Linked DNA regions of Homo sapiens: regions 1, 2 and 4 are each linked to region 3. The links come from fine-mapping of genetic effects on gene expression. A gene starts in region 3. Each other region holds a variant in brackets. All regions are shown on one strand. Distances are from middle to middle. Region 1 holds the start of LOC124901119 (a long non-coding RNA gene). Region 2 overlaps CNOT8 (CCR4-NOT transcription complex subunit 8). Region 3 holds the start of LARP1 (La ribonucleoprotein 1, translational regulator). Region 4 overlaps GEMIN5 (gem nuclear organelle associated protein 5).

What was found. PIP is the estimated chance that this variant, and not a neighbour inherited with it, causes the effect.
Region 1: its variant is the best candidate, but not a certain one, in a credible set for the expression of LARP1 in T cells (TOPMed, PIP 0.69).
Region 2: its variant is the best candidate, but not a certain one, in a credible set for the expression of LARP1 in skeletal muscle (FUSION, PIP 0.53).
Region 4: its variant is the best candidate, but not a certain one, in a credible set for the expression of LARP1 in whole blood (TOPMed, PIP 0.87).

The regions. Positions count from the first base shown.
Region 1 is chr5:154,876,300-154,878,982 of GRCh38, reverse strand. It overlaps CNOT8 (CCR4-NOT transcription complex subunit 8), which reads right to left. Exons shown (of 7, transcript NM_001301073.2): 7 at 2,191-2,683. LOC124901119 (a long non-coding RNA gene) reads right to left here and starts at 224. Exons shown (of 2, transcript XR_007059011.1): 1 at 1-224. The variant C/T (reference allele first, on the strand shown) is at 1,307.
Region 2 is chr5:154,868,434-154,871,116 of GRCh38, reverse strand. CNOT8 (CCR4-NOT transcription complex subunit 8) reads right to left here. Exons shown (of 7, transcript NM_001301073.2): 4 at 295-456. Among named protein-coding and RNA genes, the nearest start is that of CNOT8, 11 kb to the right of the region's middle. The variant AC/C (reference allele first, on the strand shown) is at 1,490.
Region 3 is chr5:154,754,155-154,756,837 of GRCh38, reverse strand. LARP1 (La ribonucleoprotein 1, translational regulator) reads right to left here and starts at 1,461. Exons shown (of 19, transcript NM_033551.3): 1 at 645-1,461. The coding sequence starts at 1,080. LOC112267936 (a long non-coding RNA gene) reads left to right here and starts at 1,818. Exons shown (of 2, transcript XR_002956231.2): 1 at 1,818-2,683. RefSeq lists silencers at 384-493, 774-853, 894-1,303, 1,344-1,683, 1,934-2,083.
Region 4 is chr5:154,906,938-154,909,620 of GRCh38, reverse strand. GEMIN5 (gem nuclear organelle associated protein 5) reads left to right here. Exons shown (of 28, transcript NM_015465.5): 16 at 1,803-2,030. Among named protein-coding and RNA genes, the nearest start is that of GEMIN5, 30 kb to the left of the region's middle. RefSeq lists an enhancer at 785-1,284. The variant G/A (reference allele first, on the strand shown) is at 1,252.

The DNA of each region.
Region 1 (2,683 bases), 120 kb before region 3:
TATTCCTGAGGCCATTGCAATGAGGCAGCAGGACGCATCTCCTCATGAGAGGTGATCAGAGACCCTTCCCTAGAGGAGAATGGGATGCCAGATGAGCCCCCAAATAGTTGGAAATAAGAGCTCGGAGTTGCAAAGAAAATGAGCTCTCAAAAGACTTCTCAGCAAGGCAAATTTACTTCTGAGAAGGGTGCTGCCTGCAACAGTCATGATCGCAAGAGCACACTGAACAAAGGAGAAAAGTTTTTATCCCTAATGCAGCTTCTGTTTCTGTGTCCTTTCCCCATTGGCTGTAGTCGGACCACACAATGTAAGCTAACCCGATTGGCTAAAACTTGAAATTTTTCCAAATAGGGTAGATGGGGAAGAAGGGGTAGGAGTGGTAAAACTTTTCCAAACAGAGTAAACTGAAACATTTAAATGCGTAACTTGTTGTTTTTTTTTTGTTTTGTTTTTTGTTTTTTTTGAGACTGTCTCTGTTGCCCAGGCTGGAGTGCAGTGGCGCGATCTTGGGTCACTGCAACCTCCACCTCCTGGGTTCACGCCATTCTCCTGCCTCAGCCTCCCAAGTAGCTGGGACTACAGGTGCCCACCACCATGCCCGGCTAATTTTTTGTGTTTTTAGTAGAGACAGGGTTTCACTGTGTTAGCCAGGATGGTCTCAATCTCCTGACCTCATGATCCACCCGCCTTGGCCTCCCAAAGTGCTGGGATTACAAGCGTGAGCCACTGTGCCCAGCCTAAATGCGTAACTTGTAAAGAAAAGAAAGGAGGGGAGGGAGGGATTGTCCGTTAAGGCATGTTTGGGCATGTTTAGGCATGGCAAAGATGGAAAGGCTTGTTTAGAGAACAAGAATGTATCTTCTAGCAATGTGAAATGACATTAGTCGCTAAAAGAAACAAAGAAGTTTGAAGAGGAACTGACTGTTTCTGGCACCAGCTATTTGGGAGGCTGAGGCAGGAGAATTGCTTGAACCTGGGAGGCGGAGGTTGCAGTGAGCCAAGATCATGCCACTGCACTCCAGCCTGGGCGACAGAACAAGACTCTGTCTCAAAAAAAAAAAAAAAAAAAAAAAAAAAAAGAATTACAAGCCAGCACGGTGGCTCATGACTGTAAGCACTTTGGGAGGCCAAGGCAGGCAAATCACTTGAGGTCAGGAGTTTGAGACCAGCTTGCCCAACATGGTGAAACCCCATCTCTACTAAAAAAATATAAACATTAGCTGGACATGGTAGCATGCACCTGTAGTCCCAGCTACTCAGGAGGGTGAGGGTGCAGTGAGCTAAGATCATGCCACTGCACTCCAGC[C/T]TGGATGACCGAGTGAGACCCTGTCTAAACCTCGAAAGAATTACACCTTAAGTGATTCTCTTGGTTACCCTACAGTGCCATCACTTTTTGAGGATGAGCATTCACATAGACCTATATGCACTCATACACACAAAGTTCTTGCCAGTTCCAAGACTTGTGCTCTTTCTTGCTAAAGCACTACTCTAAGCTCTTAACTCTCACATGCAATGATGACCAAACCCCACACTCAACACTGAGTTCCTCAACCCTTTGAGCATTTCTCCTGACATGTAAGTAAGTCCTTAATTGTAGAAAATATTAAATGTCCTGCTTTAATTCAAATTTGGAAGGGTATCTGCATAGCGCTCACAGTCACCAGCATGCCAGGGCACCCTGGTTGAGAACCACTGACTGCTGTTTCACCAGAAATTACAGTGATAAATCTCTTGTTTTGTCAACTTCCCAGTCACAATTCCATATCTGCCCCTGTACCAGACTTCTTAAAACCCCACATATTTTGTGTCAACAGAAATGGCTGGAAACAAAGTCTTGAGCCAACTCTAGGATATCTGAAGTTCAGGTTGTTTAAAAGAATCCCACTAATTAACAAGCTAATCCACCATATATAGTGGAGTGACCCCAGGAAATATTAGACTGGTTTAATTCTATAATATTAAGACCCAACAATCTTGAGTATGAAGAGACAATTCCATTTACACAGGTGCTCGTGAAAAGCTTCCTACCAAGTGATATGTATTTTTTTTATTCCCGAACCCACCCCCCAAGTGATATTTTGTATGTAAGCCAACTTGGGGACAATGGAGGCAAGATGCTCTTATTTCACTGATGGCAAATGACCATCTTCCAGAGCCAGCAATCCATAGCTATGAAAGACCAAACCTTAATGCCAGTGGTTAAAAAGAAATCTTTATTTTACAAAATTAAAAACATAAATAGTATTTACAAGCATCTTAAATACCAGCTTATAATACTTGACATTTTCTAATCATTTCAAATTGAGTTTCCCATAAGCTTTTAAAATGCAAGACCATTCATTCACTTGAGTGAGTTACCAGTTTTTACTTCCACCAATCCAAAGTGGGTTTTGGTTTTTGAAATTGTCCATACTGTAGTCATTCAAAAAAATACAATATGCTTTTGAAATGACTAGCTTTAAAGAAAAAAGTCCTGAGCTTCCTACCCCAGTTGTGGGATATTACTCCAAAACAACTCAAGAACCCAAATTATCTTACTGCCTGATTAAATGTAACCACTCTAGCTTTTTAAAGACACATTCCTGTTACTCACATTAATCCATCTCCCTCACGTTTCAGGTTTGCTGGAAGGAAAAGTAGAGAAATAATGGAGTAGAGAAGTGGGAGAATCCAGATGACCATC
Region 2 (2,683 bases), 110 kb before region 3:
ACAGCCATTTAAAAGATAACCAAGTACTGTGACCCTCTACACCCACCATATTCCCACTTGGAATTAAACCCACTGATAGCCACATGATAGAGCCAAATACTGTGTGAAACAAACCAGTATATGAGCCCCAGTGTTTTGTGAAAAACTGAAACATGGGCAACAAGCACCAATTCAACTTCTGGCTGCTGCTGCTGAACAGAACAGTCACTAGGACTGCAAAAATGACTAAGAATTCAATTCCCTGCTTCAGTGTAGCCCAAAGTGAGAGAGAAATACACATTCCCTAGGACTGACCTATGAAATGAAAGCCATTTGACATTGTCACAGAGAACCACTCCTGATGTCATAAGCAGCTCTGCAAAGTGCAGTGTGTCAATCCCTTCCTCTTCATGCTTCTGAAACTGTAGTCCTGAGTTAGCAAGGAGATCTATGGAATCCTGGGAGTACATGTCCTCTCTAAAAAACAAGGTGTTTATTTATTAACTGGTGAATAATGAAACAGAAGTAGTGGCCACACTATTACCACCACCTTATAATTATAGTACAAGTATTTTTGAAATGCTTTTCCTAACTTAATAGATCAATTCACTCTTTCCAACATTCAAACAAGCATGCAAAGTAGATCATATTTCTGTGACAGATAGAAAAATGAGATTTTCCTCCATAAACTAAATTTCCTAATTATAATAGGTATACATTTGCTCATTATTTAAAAAAAAAAAAAAACCAATAACACCAGGCACAGTGGTGCACGCCTGTAATCCCAGCACTCTGGAAGGCCAAGGCAGGAAGATCACTTCAGACCAGGAGTTCCAGACCAGCCTGGGTGACAGAGTGAGACTCCGTCTCAAAAAAAACAAAACAAACAAAAAAAAAACAACACACACACACACACACAAACAAAGATTAGCCAGGCATGGTGGTATGCACCTGTAGTTCTAACTACTCCGGAGGCTGAGGTGAGAGGATTGTTTGAGGCCAAGAACTGGAGGGGACTCACACCACTGCACTCTAGTCTAGGTGACAGAGCAAGATCCTGTCTCAAAAATAAAATAAGTAGGCCGGGCATGGTGGCTCACACCTGTAATACCAGCACTTTGGGAGGCTGAGACAGGCAGATCACTTGAGGCCCAGAGTTCAAACCAGCCTGGCCAACATGGTGAAACCCTGTCTCTACCAAAAATACAAAAATTAGGCCAGGCGTGGTGGCTCATGCCTGTAATCCCAGAAATTTGGGAGGCCAAGGTGGGCGGATCACGAGGTCAAGAGATCAAGACCATCCTGGCCAACGTGGTGAAACCCTCTCTCTACTAAAAACACAAAAATTAGCTGGGCGTGGTGGCGCACGCCTGTAATCCCAGCTACTTGGGAGCCTGAGGCAGCAGACTCACTTGAATCTGGGAGGCAGAGGTTGTAGTGAGCCAAGCTCGCGCCACTGCGCTCCAGCCTGATGACAGAGCGAGACTCCCTCTCAAAAAAAAAAAAAAAA[AC/C]ACAAAAAAACAAAAATTAGCCGGACGTGGTGGCATGCCCCTGAATCCCAGCTACTCAGGAAGTTGAGGCATGAGAATCACTTGAACCCAGGAGGCAAAGGCTGCAGTGAGCCAAGATGGCGCCACTGTACTCCAGCCTAGGAGACAGAACAAGACTCTGTCTCAAAAAAATAAATAAACTTAAAAAAAAAAAAAAAAAAACCAACAAGGCCGGGTGGGGTGGCTCACGCCTGTAATCCCAGCACTTTGGGAGGCTGAGGTGGGTGGATCACCTGAGGTCGGGAGTTCGAGACCAGCCTGACCAACATGGAGAAACCCCATCTCTACTAAAAATACAAAATTAGCAGGGCGTGGTGGCACATGCCTGTAATCCCAGCTACTCAGGATGCTGAGGTTGGAGAATCGCTTGAACCTGGGAGGCAGAGGTTGCAGTGAGCTGAGAAAGCGCCATCACACTCCAGCCTGGGCAACAGGAGCGAAACTCTATCTCAAAAAAAAAAAATAAACCAACAAAAAAATATTGAGGCACAGATGGTGGGCAGCCAGCTAAGATGACCTGACGCGCCTTCCAGCTGATTCAGGCTGCTTGCCTCAGACTCAGACACCGCCACCATGGCCAGTGAGTCTCAGGGGATCCAGCAGCTGCTGCAGGCTGAGAAATGTGCCACTGAGAAGGTATCCAAGGCCCATGAGCAAAAGACCCAGAGGCTGAAGTAGATCAAAGGAGCAGCTAAGGATGAAACTTAACAGTACCACCTGCAGAGGGAGGAAGTGGTCCAGGCCAAGGAAGCCACAGCCCTGGAATCCCAGTAGCTGCAGCACTCAAGTGGCGTAGGAAGCCCAGAAGAGGACCAGCCTCCAGACCTACTTCTGGCAGAACAAGGCTTGGATAGCCTCTTGGCCACCGTCTGTGACACTGAGCAGAAATCCATGAAAACTACAGCATAAATGGAAAGGAGTGGGAGAAAGAAGTGCCTGTTCCATGAACTGGCGTTTTAGATGCCCTCAGGGAACATAAAGCTTTGGCAAAGCTCAAGTTATATTCTTATGAAGTAAATAGGTCGGGTGCGGTGGCTCACAACTGTATGTAATCCCAGCACTTTGGGAGACCAGAGTGGGTGGATCACGAGGGTCAGGAGTTAAAGACAAGCCTGGCCAAGATGGTGAAACCCCGTCTTTACTAAAAATACAAA
Region 3 (2,683 bases):
GGGATCGGGGAGGGAAACCACCGAATTCGATGACACGATGGGTTTCTTCTCCCCACAACTGACCCCTCAACCCGTCTCCAAATGGCGATTCTAAAGCCCAATTTCATCTCCCCGAGAACAAAACTTGTTAACTTTTAATCCCCGCATCCGTGCGGCCAGCATGTACTCCGCGCCGGGCACTGGGTTGCCCGTGACATATGCTCATTAAACATTTACAACATGGGGACGCTCGCAACGCTACCAAAACGGGGAGCGCCGGGCGGGGTGGGAAGAGGGGCTTCCAGAGGAAGGTTCAAACCAGAAACCGTCTCTTACACCAGCATGCGGTGGGGATCGTTTCACTGAAACCAGCGCCCACCCTCTGCCGACGAGGTAGGCCCGAACCACACCGTTGCCCACTAACCGCTGCGGCCCAGGCGGTGGCCGTAGCCTCCCGGAGGCCGGGCCCTCGGGCAGGGGCAGGTCCCTGAGTGTACGGTGGGGGGGAGGGCGCGGCGACCAGGATCAACCAGGAGGCAATTTTAAAAAGTCCCGAGTCACCATGACCGGTAGCAGACCCCGGGGCCCTGGAGGTGCTGGGGGAGGGGACTCCCATGTCCCCGGAAGAGGCCCCCGGACCCAGGAGGGCAAGGAGGGAGACCCACCTGGGGGGGACTGTCCGTTCACGGTGGTCAGGACCGGCGGCAATGCGTTCTTAGTCCACGGGTTCACCTTGGGCGGGGGGGCTTCCACGAAGTCCCGGCGCCCCGCGCCCGCGGCTCCGGCAGCTCCTCCGCCAGCGCCTGGCTCGCCGCCGCCCTCCTCCCCGTCGCTGATGGCCGGGCCTTCGGCGCCGGGCAGCTGCAGCGGCCGCGGGCTCTCGCGCTCCTGCTGCCCGGTGCCCTCCTTGTGCGGCTTGGCGCAGGGCGGCCGGGGTCTCCGAGCGCTGCCGTCCGGCTCCCCCCCGCGGACGTCGTTTGGCCCGGGCTCGCCCTTGCCCTCGGGCGCCGGCGGCGGCTTCTTCCTCACCAGCCCCCCGTGCTCTTCGGCCTGCAAGAGCGTGGCGCCCCCAGGCAGCAGCGGCTCCACCTGAGTGGCCATCTGCGCGCCCGCCCCCCCGGAGAAGCCGGGCGCGCCCGAGGCTGCCTCCCCCGCCTCGAACTTGGCTAGCAGAGCGCCCGCGACGCCTTCCTCCGGGGCGCTGGGCCCCAGTCCCTGCAGAGAAGGGTCGGGGTTCACGCGAGGTGCGGCCCCCTCCCAGTTAGATGCAGCCGCCGTAAATCCGAGGCCCACTAGCGGGGCGGGGGGGGAGGAAGGCCCCCCACTCTGCAGTCCAGGCCTCCTAGGCGTGCGTCCCCCCCCGCCCGTTCCTCGCAAGACGCCCCCACCCCGAGCCCGGCAGGCTTCTAGTCCCGTCCCTCCCTCCCCCCCGCCCCCGGGGCGGCCCGGGCTTCCCGGCTCGGGGGCTGCAGCAATATGGACGGACGGGGGAGAGGCGCGGCGAGCCAAGCAGACCACGCGATCCGCGGCAGGCGGCGGGCGGGCGCGCGCCTCACGACGCGGCGGGCGAGGGGAGGGGACGGCGCAGCGGGGGCGCGCCGCTGGCCGGGCCCTGGGCGACGGGCGGGCAGGAGGCGGCGGGACGGCGCGCGCACGGCTACGCGGTCCTGCCCCTCGCCCCGCCCCTCGTCTCCGATTCCTCAGAGCACCTCCCGGGCTGGGGGTAGGGACGCTCAGACCGGACGGGGGCGAGCACGTGCCTGATGCAATTCGGGAGTTGTCGGTGGGGGCGCTGACGGGGATAGGAGAGAAGGCTGGGCGAGGAGGGGAGGTATCTTAAAGGGCCAGCGCGTGAGAGCGGCCTCAGGTGGAGCACATGGGACCCGGCCACGCGGCCTGCCGGGCCTGCTCGTGCTCTTTAGGCTGGGTGTCAGATTCAGGGGAAGGAGCCATTAGTGTCATTCCTGACTTCTAGGAGGCCGAAGGGAGGACCCTCATCCGCCCCGAGGACGCGCCAACGCCGCCCCCTCCCCTGTGCCCGGCGGGCCTGGCCCCTTCGGTCCCCGCCCGGGTGACCTTGGTTGGGTGAGCCGTCCGCACCTCAGTGGGTTGTGCTCCGCGCCTCGCCGCCGCTGGGCCTGGCCTCGACACTACCCGGAGATGGGTTCAACTCCGGGCCTGGAAAGCGAGTCTTTAGCCCTTGCGGGCAGCCGGCGCCTAGGAAGTGGGAACGGAATTACTAAAGCCCTCACCCAGGCCAGGCCCTTCTCCCCGCCGCGAAACCTTGTATTTATGGGCAGGAAATGTCTTTTCTTTCAAGTGGATGTCGTTTTTTTTCTAAAGAATTGCTTTGGGCGGAGTTGAACCGTCCCTGGATTGGGACTTCTGAGATCTGAGATTTTATCCTGGCCCTGCCCCCTTACCATCTCTGCAGCAGTGACTTCCAGCTTCGTGGGCCTCAGTTTCTCTATTGTAAAATGAAGGAGCAGTGTATGACAGCAGTTTCAAACTTCAGTGTACATTCGATTCAATACTTACTGACCTCGTACTGTGGGGGCCTTGCAGGGTTCTAGGAAACGGGTTTGGTATAAACTAGGCTAACAAAGTCCCTATCCTCATGGAATTTATTCTAAGGTGGGGAAAGAGACAATAAACAAGTAATAAATTATTGTCTAGTATCTATGAAGACAATAGTTAAACTGTG
Region 4 (2,683 bases), 150 kb before region 3:
GTATATCTTACTACAAAGAGGCTTGGTGGAAATATTAGATTAGTACAAAAGTAATTGTGGTGGTGGTAGGTACTTTGTACCAAAGTATTTAAAAATTGGTGTATTTTATTATATTACCCCTCAGTAAAGATGATTTTAAAGTAAGCAAAGGATAAAAACCTTAAAATGTAAATATAGAAACCTTAAAAATGTAAATGTAACAGTAATGGAAGAATTCATGAGTCCAGACCGATATAATAAATAAATGGGGAGAAGCACAAGCTCTTCCTTGTGGTAGGATGCCAACTAGATGCCAAGCTCTTCCTTGTGGTAGAATGTAGAGTGAAATCCTGGAATTAGAAGTTCACCTTGTGGGCCAGGCACAGTAGCTCACGCCTGTAATCCCAGTACTTTGGGAGGCGAGCTGATCACTTGAGCCCAGGTGTTTGATACCAGCCTGGCCAACATGACAAAACCCCATCTCTACAAAAAAAAAAAAAAAAAAAAATACAAAAATTACCCAGGCATGGTGTCGCACACCTGTAGTCCCAGCTATTCAAGAGGCTGAGGCAGGAGGATTGCTTGAGCCTGGAAGGTCAAGTAAGGCTGCCGTGAACGGAGATTCTGCCACCGCACTCCAGCCCAGACAACAGAGCAAGAACCTGTCTCAAAAAAGAGAAAAAAAGAAAAAACAAACTCACCATTTGGCAGTCATCATAGTAACAATTTTTAATCAAGAAACATCAGTGAATACAAAAACTAGTAGATGCAAATACTTAGTAGTTAAACAGGGGAAATACCCTTTTAGGGAGTAACTTGCAAGACACACCCTTAATCAGGTGATCAAAGTAAACCAAATGGGACGAATAAAAATTAGCTGCTACCTCATAGATTGCCCTGCATGAACACAGCAGCACTAATGTGCATTCCAGCTAAAGATGCATACCCTAAATCTAGTCATGAAAAACATCTGGCAGACCTAAATTGAGGGAAATTGGACAAAATAACTGTCTTGTAATCTTCAGAAGTTTCAGATTATGAAAGTCAAAGGAAAACCATGCAACTAACTGTTCCAGGCTGAAGGGAACCAGAAAGGCATGGCAACCAAATGTACCATGTGATCCTGGATTGATTCCTTTTGCTATAAAAGACATCTGGGTAGGCCGGGCGTGGTGGCTCATGCCTGTAATCCCAGCACTTTGGGAGGCCGAGGCAGGCAGATCACCTGAGGTCAGGAGTTTGAGACCAGCCTGACCAACATGGTGAAACCCC[G/A]TCTCTACTGAAAATACAAAAATTAGCTGGGCGTGGTTGTGCGTGCCTGTAATCCCAGCTACTCAGGAGGCTGAAGCAGGAGAATCGCTTGAACCTGGGAGGCAGAAGTTGCGGTGAGCTGAGATCTCGCCATTGCACTCCCGCCGGGGCAAGAAGAGCGAAACCATCTCCAAAAAAAAAAAAAAAAAAAAAAAAAAGGACATCTGGGTAAAATTGGCAGAACTTAAATAGAGAGTATGGAGTAGGTGGCAGTAGTGAATCGTGTTAATTTCCTGATTTCCATGGTTGTACTATGGTGACGTCGGAGCATGTCCTGTTCATAAGACACACACTAAAATATTTGGGTGTTATTGGGCATCATGTTTATGATTTAATGAAATTTCAAAAGGGTTTGGTTAATATTGTGATAATATAATTCTAAAAGTTCATTGAGAAGAAAGGGAATGGGTAAAAATGCTATTAAAGAGGAATGAGATATTGGAGTTTACCACCTAGAGTGCTTTTAACCAAGAATGTATACTTTAGTCAGTCCTTTATTGTGATTCTTGTAGGCAAAAAAAGTATTGAATTGGAGAAAAAACGGCTCTCTCAACCTAAGGCAAAGCCCAAAAAGAAGAAAAAGCCCACCTTGAGAACTCCTGTAAAGCTGGAATCGATTGATGGAAATGAAGAAGAAAGCATGAAGGAGAACTCAGGACCTGTTGAGAATGGTGTGTCAGACCAAGAAGGGGAGGAGCAAGCACGGGAGCCGGAATTACCCTGTGGCCTTGCTCCAGCGGGTATGTGGCAGAATCCTGTGTATCACTAGGATTTCATGGTCGTGTCTGGGAAACTAAGCTAGGTCCTTACTCAGTTTGAAACTTCGCTGTTCCCATTTTTCCAACTCTTGGAAACAGCATTAGTTTTTTTTGTTAAGCTTTATTCAAGTCTCTAAAATAAACATCTTTGAAGTTTTAAAGGGGTTCTAGTGGATGTTTGTGGTGGAAATAGTAAAGTTCTACAGAGAAAACTTCTTATTCAACTTGGGCAAGGTAAAACCGTGGGACGAAGCGAAGCTGGGTCAGTTGTGTACATAGGAACTTACATGGGAAAAGTTTTAACAGTATGACATCAGTAGCCACATTTGGTGAAAGAAACTACTGTCCCTTACAAATGTCTGACCTAGAAGCTACCACCACTGTGGGAACTTGCAAGCTCTCACCCCCTTACGTGGAGTTTGTACGCGGCTTTCTGTCTTCTCACAGAAAAAAAATGTGTGAATGGTTATTAGGTTTTTCTAGTGAGTTAAGCTGTAGTGATGGCTCTCAGATGTCTCACAAAACAGTGTTCTATCACTAACAAAAAAACTGTTAGGTAAAAATTTTAGCACTCTTTTTATTTTGTACATTTACTCGGGACCTGTTGAGAATGGTTTGTCAGACCAAGTGATAAA